Linked DNA regions of Homo sapiens. The protein of the gene in region 3 purifies or fractionates together with the protein of the main gene of each other region. This does not show direct contact. Each region holds a gene or a part of one and is shown on either strand. Other genes may lie near its edges.

The links.
Region 1: the proteins of TLK2 (region 3) and MTMR3 purify together in Homo sapiens (affinity purification with mass spectrometry; one large-scale study listed by BioGRID and IntAct). This does not show direct contact.
Region 2: the proteins of TLK2 (region 3) and IFFO1 purify together in Homo sapiens (affinity purification with mass spectrometry, with the first as the bait; one large-scale study listed by BioGRID). This does not show direct contact.
Region 4: the proteins of TLK2 (region 3) and PCCA purify together in Homo sapiens (affinity purification with mass spectrometry; one large-scale study listed by BioGRID and IntAct). This does not show direct contact.

The regions. Positions count from the first base shown.
Region 1 is NC_000022.11:30,026,174-30,028,770, reverse strand, and holds part of MTMR3 (phosphatidylinositol-3,5-bisphosphate 3-phosphatase MTMR3), read right to left. Parts: 3' UTR 1-2,597. UniProt on the Homo sapiens protein: Lipid phosphatase that specifically dephosphorylates the D-3 position of phosphatidylinositol 3-phosphate and phosphatidylinositol 3,5-bisphosphate, generating phosphatidylinositol and phosphatidylinositol 5-phosphate.
Region 2 is NC_000012.12:6,546,043-6,549,542, forward strand, and holds part of IFFO1 (non-homologous end joining factor IFFO1), read right to left. Parts: intron 3,443-3,500; coding exon 3,434-3,442; intron 2,808-3,433; coding exon 2,626-2,807; intron 2,504-2,625; coding exon 2,383-2,503; coding exon of another isoform or gene 2,119-2,382; coding exon 2,023-2,118; intron 1-2,022. UniProt on the Homo sapiens protein: Nuclear matrix protein involved in the immobilization of broken DNA ends and the suppression of chromosome translocation during DNA double-strand breaks (DSBs).
Region 3 is NC_000017.11:62,597,325-62,600,824, forward strand, and holds part of TLK2 (serine/threonine-protein kinase tousled-like 2), read left to right. Parts: intron 1-3,326; coding exon 3,327-3,496; intron 3,497-3,500. UniProt on the Homo sapiens protein: Serine/threonine-protein kinase involved in the process of chromatin assembly and probably also DNA replication, transcription, repair, and chromosome segregation. Phosphorylates the chromatin assembly factors ASF1A and ASF1B.
Region 4 is NC_000013.11:100,270,593-100,274,092, reverse strand, and holds part of PCCA (propionyl-CoA carboxylase alpha chain, mitochondrial isoform a precursor), read right to left. Parts: intron 898-3,500; coding exon 747-897; intron 1-746. UniProt on the Homo sapiens protein: This is one of the 2 subunits of the biotin-dependent propionyl-CoA carboxylase (PCC), a mitochondrial enzyme involved in the catabolism of odd chain fatty acids, branched-chain amino acids isoleucine, threonine, methionine, and valine and other metabolites.

The DNA.
Region 1 (2,597 bases), on a different chromosome or scaffold from region 3:
GAACCAGCTCAGCTGGCTCTTTGTGTTTGTATACTTTAGGTAGAAGGTACATTCAGAAAGTGACCCTAGAGAGACTGCCCCAAAGAGTGAAGGCCTCTGGGGAGCTCTGAGCAGGTCACTCTGGATCTTAGCCAACTCACCACAGATGCTGGGCTGGCGCCTCTGGAGCAAGGCACCCCTCAATACCAACCTTCCCGAGGGAGGAACAGCATAACATATCTCACCCACAGACCCATGTGATGGGAGGGATGCCCAACAGTGCTGTAGGGTAAAGAAAAATCTACCTCTGTGAAGAGCAAGAACTAGTATTGAAGTGACTAGATGCCACAGTCCTGCTGTAAGAGCTAAGGAGCAGAGGTTCCTCTCTGTGTGGAGAGAGGGCGGGAAGGAGACCTCTAGTTGACTGCATAACCCAATCACATCTAATTCCATTTCTGCCCCCAGTTCTCTCTGCCCACCCATAGTCTATCCTTCAAGAACAACAGGCAGAAGCATTTTCTCACCCCCACCCCACATCTCCTTCCACTCCCCGACTGAAGGGGCCAGAGTACTGGCTGCCCTGAAATCAGAGCAGCAGCTAAAAATGGAGCCTTGAGGCGAGAGGTAGTTGTAATGACTACTGATGGGAACTCTTCAGAGAAGGAGGAATAGCTGCCAGGTCAGATCCCTGACTGCTTTGCCCTCTTTTAGCCTGGGAGATTTTAGGAGCAAAATCACTGAGGAAATGCGTTCAGTGCTTGAACATCATGGTGAGGCTCCTTGCCAAGGTCTAGAGTCGGAAGGCTATCTGTAGCTTTCCTTTGCCAAAGGTCAGTTTCCCAGCAGGCCCTCAAACACTTCTGTGTGAGAGGGAAAAGGGACGAAGAGGGGATAAACCACAGGGCAAAGAATTAGGAAGTGTTAGCAAATGCTACCATGTGGAACACTCAACTTTATTTGCTTTATTTATATATTTAACAATTCTAAAGTATTTACTTCTTGCTTTGACAAAAAATGAAAAATATAGGAGCACTGACTGACTCCTCTTTAGGAGAAAAGGGTTATATGTACAGCTATGGAGAGTTACGGTTCCTCCTTTAACAAAGGAAAATATTAATAAAAAAGTGCTTCATCGATCAAAAAAGAGCTAAGAGCTGCAAGCATTTATTCACACTGTACATCAGACCCAAGAAACCCGTATCATAACCTCTTGGCACCTGTCACTAGGAAATGCACAATCTTCAATTAGACCAACTTTTTCCCTACCTGCACGACTAGATGACACAGAATGTGGAAAAGAACTACACCCTGTTTCACCACGTTCAAACTGTGTTGCCACTGGAAGTCAGAGACGTGCTCAGATGCTCTGGGCTTTGCCTGGACTGAGAGCACCAGGGAAGCCTTCTGGGCCACGCCTTAACCACACCCAGGCATGCACAGAACCACCTTCCTGAGACACACCTTGCCCTTGGTCAGGGAACTGCTACCAAGGGGAAGAGGAATACAGGGCAGGGCCAGAGCTTAAGCATTCCCTGACCTTACCCCTAGTCCTCACCATGATCCACCCTGTCACCAGTTAGCAGCTTTCAGCAGAGTCAAGCATGGCCTCCCCAAGAGGGAGGGCAGGCACAAAACATGGATGCCAAGATTACAAAGCACAAACCTAACTCTTCTCCAACCTTCCCCACACCTACCTCCACAAATATTCTTGATTTAAGGCTGTTTTTGGACCATATCAAAGCTCACTGAGGAAAGGTGCCCTGAATCTCCTCAAGGCCATGTCACTTCTCTAAGGAACCCTACGAAGTCACCAAGTGGCCCTTCACTGCTGGCCAGCAGCCAGACAAGTGCCCACTCAGACAGCCAGGAGTGGCAAAGGGGGACTGCTCAGCAGTTATTCCTGTCCCAAGAAGAGAAGAGGAGAAAGGCTGATTGTATGGGACCTGCTCCCTTTTCCAGGGGCTTGTAACTCTAAAGGCTGATTCTACCCCTTAAAGGGAAGATCCATGATTGGTTTGGTTTGGGAACGGGGGATTTCTGGAACCCTGAGTCTGGATTTCCCTGTGCTGGCTGAGGAAGAGATTGTTTAGGGGACCAGGCCCCAGAATGGGGACCCAGGTGTGTCTGGGCTCAGGGCAGGCTTTGGCCTTGACTGCATAAACATTTTGACCAGTCTGTACTCATGCCTGAGGGTGGGAAGTGCTACACAGCCTGGCCCAGGAAAGCAGCCCCCTGAAAGTAAAAGGAGCCCAAGACAATCTGGGTCAAGTTAAAAATGGGATCCCACGGGGGACAACATGACGGCTACCCACTCCCAGCCCCTCGCCTGCCTCAAAGGAGCATCCACTTTCCTTTCCCAAAGAGGCGCCTAAGGGGATGCCATTTACCGTGTGCCTCTCCCTCCAAACATCAGCCTCATTTATCCATCTGTGAGGGGACTGGCTCAGCTCCTCGCAGGAGGGAGATGATGCCCAGGGCAGTGCTCTTGGGGAATATGCTTCCAGCCTCCCCAGCAGCAAAGGGTTCCCAACCAGCTCTGATGTGGCGGTGGCGTGAGGAATGGTTGCATGTTAGCACTGGCTTTCTTCCCTGCTCACGGTCTCAGATCTCCATACTCC
Region 2 (3,500 bases), on a different chromosome or scaffold from region 3:
TGAAATTGTAAAGAAGGAAAAAGAAATTTGTGCCAGTTTTGCTGTCACACCTCGAACTGCAAAAGGTACCGCCACAGCGCACGCTAAGTGCTTAGTTAAGATAGAAAAGGCATTGAATGTGTGGGTGGGAGACATGAACAGAAACACGTTCCAGTTGACAGCAACTGGACCCAAGCTATCAGGAGGTCAGTGCTATCTTTGGTTTCAGGCATCCACTGTGGGTCTTGGAACACATGCCCTGAAGATAAGGGGGGACTACGTATGAATCTCCCATGTGGGCCTGAAGAGAGGCTGAGACGCAGAGAAGGCTCCATGCCTCTCCCAAAGTCAGAGCGTCGGGAAAGGACCACCTCACCAGGCCAGGAGAGCTCACGGGGGTCCCGTCCATCCCTCCTCCCACAGCAACAGCAACCTCCATTCTGTGGTTCCACAAATCCTTCTTCCTTTGTTTGTATTTTTGAGACGGAGTCTTGCTCTGTCGCCCAGGCTGGAGTGCAGTGGTGCGATCTCGGCTCACTGCAAGCTCCGCCTCCCGGGTTCACGCCATTCTCCTGCCTCAGCCTCCCGAGTAGCTGGGACTACAGGTGCCTGCCACCACGGCCAGCTAATTTTTTTTTTTTGTATTTTTCGTAGAGACGGGGTTTCACCGTGTTAGCCAGGATGGTCTCGATCTCCTGACCTCGTGATCTTCCCGCCTCGGCCTCCCAAAGTGCTGGGATTACAGGCGTGAGCCACCGCGCCCGGCCTCCACAAATCCTTCTTGCAGCTCCTAAAGCCTAGAGTTTGAGCTAAAGCACCAGCTCCACTTGCCTCTAGGTACCTCTAGAAGGTACTTCAAGGCTTGGGAAAAAGCATGGAGATTTCTCTGTTATCTCAAAGGCTGAGTGGAAGAAACAGGAAAGTCCCAGTCCATCTCTGAGTGCCATGGCACTGATAGTGTTAATAATAATAAAACAGTCCCCACTATGCTACACTCGCTATGAGCCAGACACTGCCCTAAGCTCTATATATGCATTATTTCATCTGATCTTCTAAACAACCCTATAGGTGAGGTATTATTAAATTCCTCATTTTACAAATAAAAAGGCCCGGCACAGTGGCTCATGCCTGTAATCCCAACACTTTGTGGGGCCGAGTTAGGAGGACTGCTTGAATCCAGAAGTTTGAGGGCAGCCTGGAAAACATAGTGACACCCTGTTCTCTGTAAAAAAAATCAAAAAATTAGCCGGGCGTGGTAGCACACGCCTGTGGTCCCAGCTACTTGGGAGGCTGAGGTAGGAGGATTGCTTGGATCCAGAAGATCACGGCTGCAGTGGGCCTGGAGTGACAGAGCAAGACCCTGTCTCAAAAAAAGAAAGAAAGAAAGAAAGAAAGAAAAAGAAACAGGTGTAGGGCTGGACACATGGCTCATGTCTCTAATTCTAGTACTTTGGGAGGCCGAGGCAGGAGGATCACTTAAGCCCAAGAGTTTAAGACCTGCCTGGGAAACACAGGGAGACACCATCTCTACAAAAAAATACAAATAAAAATTAGCTGGGTATGGTGGCACACACCTGTGGGCCCAGCTACTCAGAAGGCTGGGGTGGGAGGATCACTCCAGCCTAGGCAACAGAGTGAAACAGAGTGAGACCTTGTCTCAAAAAAGAAAGGACAGAAAGACAAGGGAGAGAGGGAGGGAGGGATAGAGGGGGAGGGGAAGAGAGAGAGAGAGAGAAAGGAAGGAAGGAAGGAAGGAAAGAAAGGAAAGGAAAGGAAAGGAAAGGAGGGGCTCAGAGGGAACAAGTAACTTATTACAAGTTCAGGGTGGTTGTAAGTAACAGAGCTGAGATTTGAACCGATATCTGTCTGTTTCCAGAGCCTGAGGTCTTCAGAGCCCACCAGGAGGACTATAGCTGAGAGATCACTCCTCCTCCCAAGACCTTGGTCTCTAGGGTCCTGCAGCAGGGATGAGGCCACTGCGCCTGCAGCCCCACTCAAAACCCTCTGGGACACCACGCCCCTGGCTTCCGCTCCTGCCCTTACCTCTATCTGGTCAATGGTCTCCTGATACTCCTTCTCCCGGGTTTTGAACAGGGACTCCGTATCTTTAATCACCTTCTCCAGGCTATCTTCCTGCTGCTGGAGTAGAAAGGGAAGCGGGGGAGGCCAGCCAAGGAGGGATGGGATGGGACGCATTCCAAAGGGCCAAGTCAGGGAGAGAGAGAGAGAGGAAGTCTGGTTAAAGAAACTGGAGAAAGAAAAGCAAAAGGATAAAGGAAGAGGGGAGACGCAGGTAGAGGATGACAGCCACATGGGGGGACAGAGCAAGGAGAGGAGCGGGGGAGTGGGCTTCAGGCTGGAGAGGCAGAGCCAGAGGGCCCTGAGGCCGGGAGCAGAGGTTACCTCTCCCTGGGCCTCTGCAGCTGCCATGGCATAGCCTGAGAAATCCTCCCAAAGCAGCAGGGTCTCCTCAGTCTCCTCCCAAGTCAGGCTGTCACAGTCGTCCTCAAAATCATACTCCCTCCTAGAGACAGGGAACCCGGGTGTCAGGGCGGGCGGGGCCTCGTCCTGGCGGGGGACTGGGGAGCTCCGGCCTCCTGGGCTGCTGTGGCGTCGGTGCTGCGGGAGCACGGCCTGCGGACTCACAGCTGGTTGAGCATGCGCTGCATCTCCTCGTTGATGCTGAGGGCTGTGCTCTCCTCCTCATCCCCATCGGGCTGGCGGGGCCCCTCACTCTCCGACAGGGAGGTGTCCTCCTCGACGGCAGCCTTGCGCTCCCGCTTCCGCCCCCCCATGGATGGGACCTTAATGGGAGACAAGTGCAGAGACTACAGAGACGAGGCCGGGTGCATGAGGAGAAAGGGCGGGAGCGGGAGGCCGGGCAGAGAGGGTGGGAATGGGGGAGAAGCATGAACCAGTAGGAAGGGGGGGCAGACAGAGAGAAAAGTCACAGTTACAATGACAGGAACAGAAACACGGACAGTCACCAAGGGCCAGACACACAGCGGGGGTCAGGGCTGCAAACCGAGAAGGCAGAACAAGAAGAAATCGAGAAGAAGAGCAGTCAGACAAGGAAGGAAGGGCTCGCTGGGGCTGCAGTCAGATGTGCATGATGGCTCAAGAGGAAATTTTTTTCTAAAAAAAGTCTTTTTGATTAAATGACTCAACTAAAAAAAAAAAAGCTTTAGGACGCAAGGAGGATGAGTGTGCAATGTGTACAAAAGAGAACCTGAATCACATCCAGATCTGGAAAGCCGGGGGAGAAGGGAGAGAAAGAAATGCAGTCAAGAGAACAAGAGATAGAGAGAAAAAGGGGGAAGAGCAAGGAAAAGGGAAAGGGCAGAAAAAAATCCGTGCTCAAGAGCCCAGCGGGCCCAAACTGAGGGCCAGGAGGCCTAGGCAGCTTAGAAACTGGGACTGGGACATTAATAAGCTTGCGTGAGATCAAACTAACCAGCTTCTTCTGTGGAGGAAGCAAGAGAGAAGATGAGAGGAAGAGAGGAGAGGAAGCAGACAGAGGA
Region 3 (3,500 bases):
CTGTGTCAGTACTTCATTCCTTTTTATGGCAAAATAATATTCCATTGTGTGGATATACCACATTTTGCTTATAACGGTTTGATAACCAGCTCACAAAATTCTTGAAAATTTAAGTCAGCTCTTGGAAACTGGCATGAGTTGGTGCCAGCATGCCACTGACGTGCACTAGTGAGTGTAGACTGTTCAAGAGAGTTTCTGCTCACCCCAGAGACTCTTATGAACATTGACAGACCTTTTTAAAAAGTACTGGCCGTGTGATTTTATCCTAGACTGAGATAAGAAATGTGGCACTAATGAAGACAAGGCTCAGTGCTACATGTTGAAATACAGGCTCATAGGCTTATAGGATGTTAGAATAGGAAGGGATCTCAGAGTCCAGCCTTTTCATTTTATAGGTGGATTTTGAGGACCAGAGAAGTTAAATAACTTGTCTGAGATAGTTATTAATTGTGGGCATTGCTATATTTTGTTACTTGGTATAGGTAACCTCCCGTGCCTCTGGGTTTATCCAGCAGTTTAGCTGGATATATCTCAGCATTTGGAAATGTTTCTCTGTAGAAGTCTGAACTGAATCAGAATATACCCTAGGTCTAGACTTCAGGTTCCCTCAGCCTCCCAGGGTAATTCTAGGAGTTTTGGTCTGTTCTAGCCAACAGTCTCAGATATGGCTGTGCAGACAGCTGCCTTACATTTAGAAATAACCCCAAAGAGGACTATAATTCCCTTTGGAAACATGACCTGGGCCATTCTCTCAGGGATTTCTTCTCATTTGGGTAGCCCTGGCACTGAGCTTAGCCATGTGTGTTTCACGTGGAGTGGAATTTTTTTAAAAAGATCTAGTTAGAAGGCAGGATTGGGAAACAAGGGGCGGGGCATGACATTACTGTTTTGCCTTGAGCAAATTTCTTGAATACTAGGTAGACCCCCCTCTCTGAACTATTAAGTTCAAGAACTATTTCAAAGTTAAATATCAGGCTCAAATTATCTGCTGTTTTGAATTGTATACACACTTTTAACTAATGTGAGAAATTGAGTTGGTTCTATACTATTCTTGAGTTGATTACTTTGTTCTTCCTATTGTATGTATGATGAATTTTCACCAAAAATAAGTCAGACCATGATTTTTAGAACATCTTCTGAGAATTGTTTGGGTATTAAAAGTGAGGCTTTATTTTCTTTTCTTTCTTTTGTTTTGGTTGTTTTCCTTTTTTTTTTCCTGAGATGGAGTCTCACTCTGTTGCCCAGGCTGGAGTTCAGTGGTGCGATCTTGGCTCACTGCAACCTCCACCTCCCAGGTTCAAGCGATTCTCCTACCTCAGCCTCCCATGTAGCTAGGATTACAGATGCACGCCACCATGCCTGGCTAATTTTTGTATTTTTAGTAGAGACAGGGTTTCACCGTGCTGGGCAGGCTGGTCTTGAACTCTTGACCTTGTGATCCGCCCGCCTGGGCCTCCCAAAGTCCTGGGATTACAGGCTTGAGCCACCGCGCCTGGCTGAAAGTGAGGCTTTATTTTCAACTTGCATTTGGGTGAAAGAATCATTCCATTGAGCATGAGTCTATATTTCAGATTTCAGAATCTCAGATCAGAGGAATCTATAAATTTCAGACATTTCTTTTTTTAATTTTATTTTATTTGAGATGGAGTCTTGCTCTGTTGCCCAGGCAGTAGTGCAGTGGCATGATCTTGGCTCACTGCAACCTCCACCTCATGGGTTCAAGCAATTCTCCTGCCTCAGCCTCCCAAGTAGCTGGGATTACAGGCATGCGCCACCATACCTGGCCAATTTTTTGTATTTTTAGTAGAGACAGAGTTTCACTATGTTGGCCAGGCTGGTCTCAAACTCCTGGCCTCAAGTGATCCACCCATCTCTGCCTCCCAAATTGCTGGGATTACAGCAGACATTTGTTTTCAAATAGGGTGTTAGCATGCCCTGCCATGTTTCTTAAGATACATAAGATATTGTTCAGTTTGTGGTGTCCACAGGACCATGTGTGTCCATGTTCAATTGCAGTGCTTTATGAAGGCCTCAAATTGCTCAGTGGCCCATAGCGCTAGACCTGAGTCTGTTTGCTCTCAGTTCTGTTCCTCGCCCTTTCGCTGCTCTGTATCTTTGGGGGGTTAGCCCGTGTAGGCTGTGTTTATCAGGCCCATGTGTCCATTGGTGTTCTGTTGGTTTCAGCCAATGGGAAGGCAGAAATGGGAGGGGGTCTCCACCTCCTCTCCCTCCCCGCAATTCTAGTTTCCCCTGATGACCCTGGGTTCTGGTTTCACCATCTCCTCCCTTCTGGCCTGCTTGCCTGAGGGTGCTAATGGCTTCCTGCTGTAGATGATCTCTAGGGTGCCTCACTGACCAGTTTGTCTTCTCAGCTCTTCCATCATCTGTATGATCAGTTCCCTGAATTAAAGTCTCTCTGTTTTAAATGTTCAGGTGGTTTTTTTTTCCAGGCTAAACTGACTGATACACCCACATTGTCACAACTTAGAAAACTTCAAAACGTATTCATCCCTCAGGAATATTCAAACAGTTCAGGACACCTTACTTCAGAGTATAATGCCTTGGAAGATAGACACGTGACCTGTGATGCCACCAATGGCATATGGTTTTATGTATGGGTCTGTATGACATATTGACATAAGGGAAGGAAAGAGAACCCACATACTTTTGTTAGAACCATAGATACTATACTTTACAAGCTCTTTTACACCTTGTGTTTAAGAGAAATTGTAGTGCAGTATTGTGCCAAGCTGTCAGAAGACGTAGTATGCAGTCAGTTTTTGGGACGTGGGCAAACTCTAGATTCTTACTCATTGCCAGCACTCAGGGTTATATAAAATGTTTGCAGTGCGAATTGTGTACCTAGCCAAAATTGCGCCACTGCACTCCAGCCTAGGCAGCAGAGTGAGACGGAGTCTCAAAAAAAAAAAGAGAGAATTGTGTACTTGATCACATTCTGGTTGTTTAGACGTGGATGTGTGGCATGGGTGTGTAAAGGAGCCCCTTCCAAGAAGATACCTAGCTTAAATACATTATAGTTCTTATCAGTATTCTTATAGTCTAGACTCAAGAAGAGGTCTGCCATGGGTGAACTTGAGCACAACAGATTCCAACATTGAGGGTGTGGAAACTCTTCAAGAGAATAAGCAGTTTCTTACCAGAAACCCCTCAGCTAATACTGAATAAACAATTGAAGAGTATTTTAAGGAACAAAGAAGAAAGGAGTGAGAAGCTGATGACCTGAAGTTTTCACATGGGACTAATTTAGGTAGTGTTAATCTGCTTGCTCTTATTCCATGGTTAAATATTGGTTTATTTGTCTTTAGGTTTTGTACAGTATTAGAATACTGTGAGGGAAATGATCTGGACTTCTACCTGAAACAGCACAAATTAATGTCGGAGAAAGAGGCCCGGTCCATTATCATGCAGATTGTGAATGCTTTAAAGTACTTAAATGAAATAAAACCTCCCATCATACACTATGACCTCAAACCAGGTAT
Region 4 (3,500 bases), on a different chromosome or scaffold from region 3:
AGAAGAAAATGAGGCTAGTGTAAAAAGAGCTGGCTGTTTTGTAAATACTTCTAGGCCCAGTTGATGTTTACATTGATTTTTGCTTTATAATAATACATTCAATTATTCACCTGTGTTCTATGTATGTTTCTGTATAGTTCACAATTTAAATGAAAGAAAAAAGGGAAGAAGGAAGGAAATAAAGCCACCGGTTACAACGCCAGTCGCTTCCTGAGATTTGGTTAGAACTAAGGAAGTTATGTCCCCCAAAGCCAACAGTTCCAAGGGCAGCCACTTGATTCTCAACGTCCTCACTGTGGCAGAGGTGCCGGTTCCTCTGGGAGCCTGGCTGAGTGGTACAGCAGTGGGAGTCACCACCGAAGTTCACTCTGGGTACCCTTCCTTCCTCCATCCTTCCAAAGATTTTGCAATCACTGTATCACTTCCTATTTGTAATATCTAGAGTAATTTTTCTTAACAGCACATACACACTGACAAATACAGTTCATCTAGAAAGGTTCAAGAAAAAAACAAAGTGGTATTTCCAACATAAAGTATTAACAGTGACAAAGCAGAGGTCTAGACATTGAACTTTAGAGGGATACTATCCGTCATTCCTAACAGATGTCTTAGCACAAGCATAAAAACTAAATCTTTATTTAACACTTTATGGAGTTAATTTTTTAACATTTATAAAACAAAAAAGGGTGGAGAAGGAAGGGTAAAGTACAGAGGCATGGAGAGGAATAAATAACAGTTGTTGTTACCTGGAGTCTTGTATTCATTTCCAAGAAATAAAAATTCTTCTTAGAGTCCACAAGGAACTCCACGGTCCCAGCAGAGGAATATTTTACTGCTCTGGCAAGAGCTACAGCTTGTTCTCCCATCGCTCTTCGAGTCTCCGCATCCAAAAAAATGCTACATATACAAAAAAATGTTTGTCTACATTTCGGACAAAAATCAAGTTATCTTTTGTGTGCATTACATAAACATTTTCTTAAAGTTTACTCAGATATAGATCATCTATACCAATTTAAGAATTCAAAATATTGTGCTTTATATATGTTTTATAATATATGTTGACTATATTATTAAGCATAACATGCTCAAATAAGTCAACTTTAGATTTGTATAAAACATTTGAACTTTTCACATTACTCTGCAACTTCAATCCATTCACAAAATATATAACTACTCTTCAACTTCTAATATTTAACATATATATTCAGAATTGCTTCGAGCCAAAAACTGGGAGAAAAATAACTTATTAGTATCTAACATACACAATCAATCCTCATTGCTCATGTAGTCCATATTTACAAATCTGCCTACTTGCTGAAATTTATTTGTAACCCCAAAATCAATACTTAAGGCGCTTTCATGGTCCTTTGTGAACAAGTGCAGAGAGGTGAAAAATTTGAGACTCCAGTATGCTAAGGCTGAACAAGGTGATGCTCTCCCTTCTCGTTTCAATGCTCATACTATAACAAGCATCCTTTTCAAGGTCTGTTTAGTGTCACTTTTTTTGCATTTGTGTGTGTGTGTGTGTCATTTCATGGTGTGAAATGGCCCATCAAGCATTGTCCTTAGGTGCTGTCTGGGGTTCCCATGTGCAAGAAGGCCATGAAGTACTGTCTGGAGAAAATGTGTGTGGGATAAGCTTTACTCAGGCACGTGTTATAGTCTTGTTGGCCAGGATTGTGAGTTCACTGTTAATGAATCAACCACAGATATTAAATGAGAAATACACAAAAAACAAAATTATGTATTAATCCACTGAGGAAAATGTTATAAGCAAAGGCTCGCAGGAACCTAACCCTGTATTTCCCCTAGGGGAAATTATTCAGTGTTCACTAATTCAGTAATCAAGGTGACTTTAGAGAACATAACTGCCACAAATAACAAGAATCAGCAATACATCCACTAAATCCTGCACGTTTGGCTTCAAGATACCAAACCCACCTTCAAGCAGGCAAGTTAAGCTAAAATGACTTCAACAAACCCTGAAAAAAATATCATCAAACCACTTTGCATTTTCACAGATTTTGCTTCTATGAAAGAAAGGCTCTGAGAAACAAAACATTAACTACTTTTCTACTTGTGGATTAAAATTATTCTCAAATGAGCAGGATTGAGATGACATGCTATAAAAGCTTTATTATGGAATAGTATAAAAAACTTGCATGAAGCTGCCTCCAATATATAGCAATTATTAATACATAGCCACTCTGGCTTTATCTATGCTACTTGCCCACTTCTCTACCAGGCCCACCCTTTATTGTTTTTAAAGTAAATCCCAAATTAGGTATCATTTCACTTTTAAAAACATACATGTCTGTTTCTATGAGATAAAGTACCCTTTTGTAACACAACTACACAAAAAACAAGAACTCCTTAAAAGCATTTAATATCCACTTGGTATTCAAATTTCTCTATCTCATAAATATCTTTATACAGCTGATTTCTTTGAATCAGGATCCAAATAAGGTCCAAAACTGCATTTGATTGGCTTTTGTATCTTAAGACTCTTTTAATCTGTAATGCCCCTTCCCCATTTTCTGGCCAAGGATCTGGTCATTTTACTGTCTTATTTCTCACATTCTTGGTTCAACTGCATGCAACCCCACGGTGTCTTTTAACATTCATATTACATTTCTATTTCATATAGATTGCTAGTTAGACTCAGAGCCTTGAATATATTCAAGTTGGATTGGGGTGGGGGAGGGGGAAGAGTTCACAGGTGGGAAGTGTACTTCCTACTGTCTCCCTTTTGGTGAAGTTACAATAAATCAATGGGTTCAAGTGTTATGAATTATCTATAATATAGTTTGCATTAACCTAATGTATAGACATAGATGACATTTCAACAATAACTGGCTGACAAAATTAATGCAACTAAAAAAAACCCCAACTAACAATTAATAGCATAACATCTGGAGAATCTCAGTGCAGCTCTGTGAAACTATCTTTCTCCTATTTGATCTTGCCCTTGCCCTTTTCAAAAGCCCTGCTAGATATCCAGAGATATGAGTGACCCTAGCTAGCATTGCCCTCAAAGCACATTAGTAGATTCTTTTTTTTATTTTTATTTTTCGGGGGGTGGGGGAGAACAGGGTCTTGCTCTGTCACCCAGGCTGGAATCTGGTGGCATGATGTCGGCTCACTGCAACCTCGACCTCTGGGGTTAAGCAATCCTCCCACTTCAGCCTCCCAAGTAGCTGGAACTATAGGCATATGCCACCACAGTCAGCTGATTTTTTACTTTTTTGTGAAGATGAGGTCCCACTACGTTGTCCAGGCTGGTCTCAAACTCTTAGGCTCAAGCAATCCTCCCACCTCAGCCTCCCAAAGTGCTAAGATTACAGGTGTGAGCCACCATGCCCAGCCGATTCTTACTCCAGGAACTGAAAACTACACATTCCATTTATTTTAACATTTCACAGTGTACAAATACATATCAGGTCAGTATTAATGATGAGTTCTAGCTTTTTCATTTTGATTCCTACTGCTGTATATTTTCC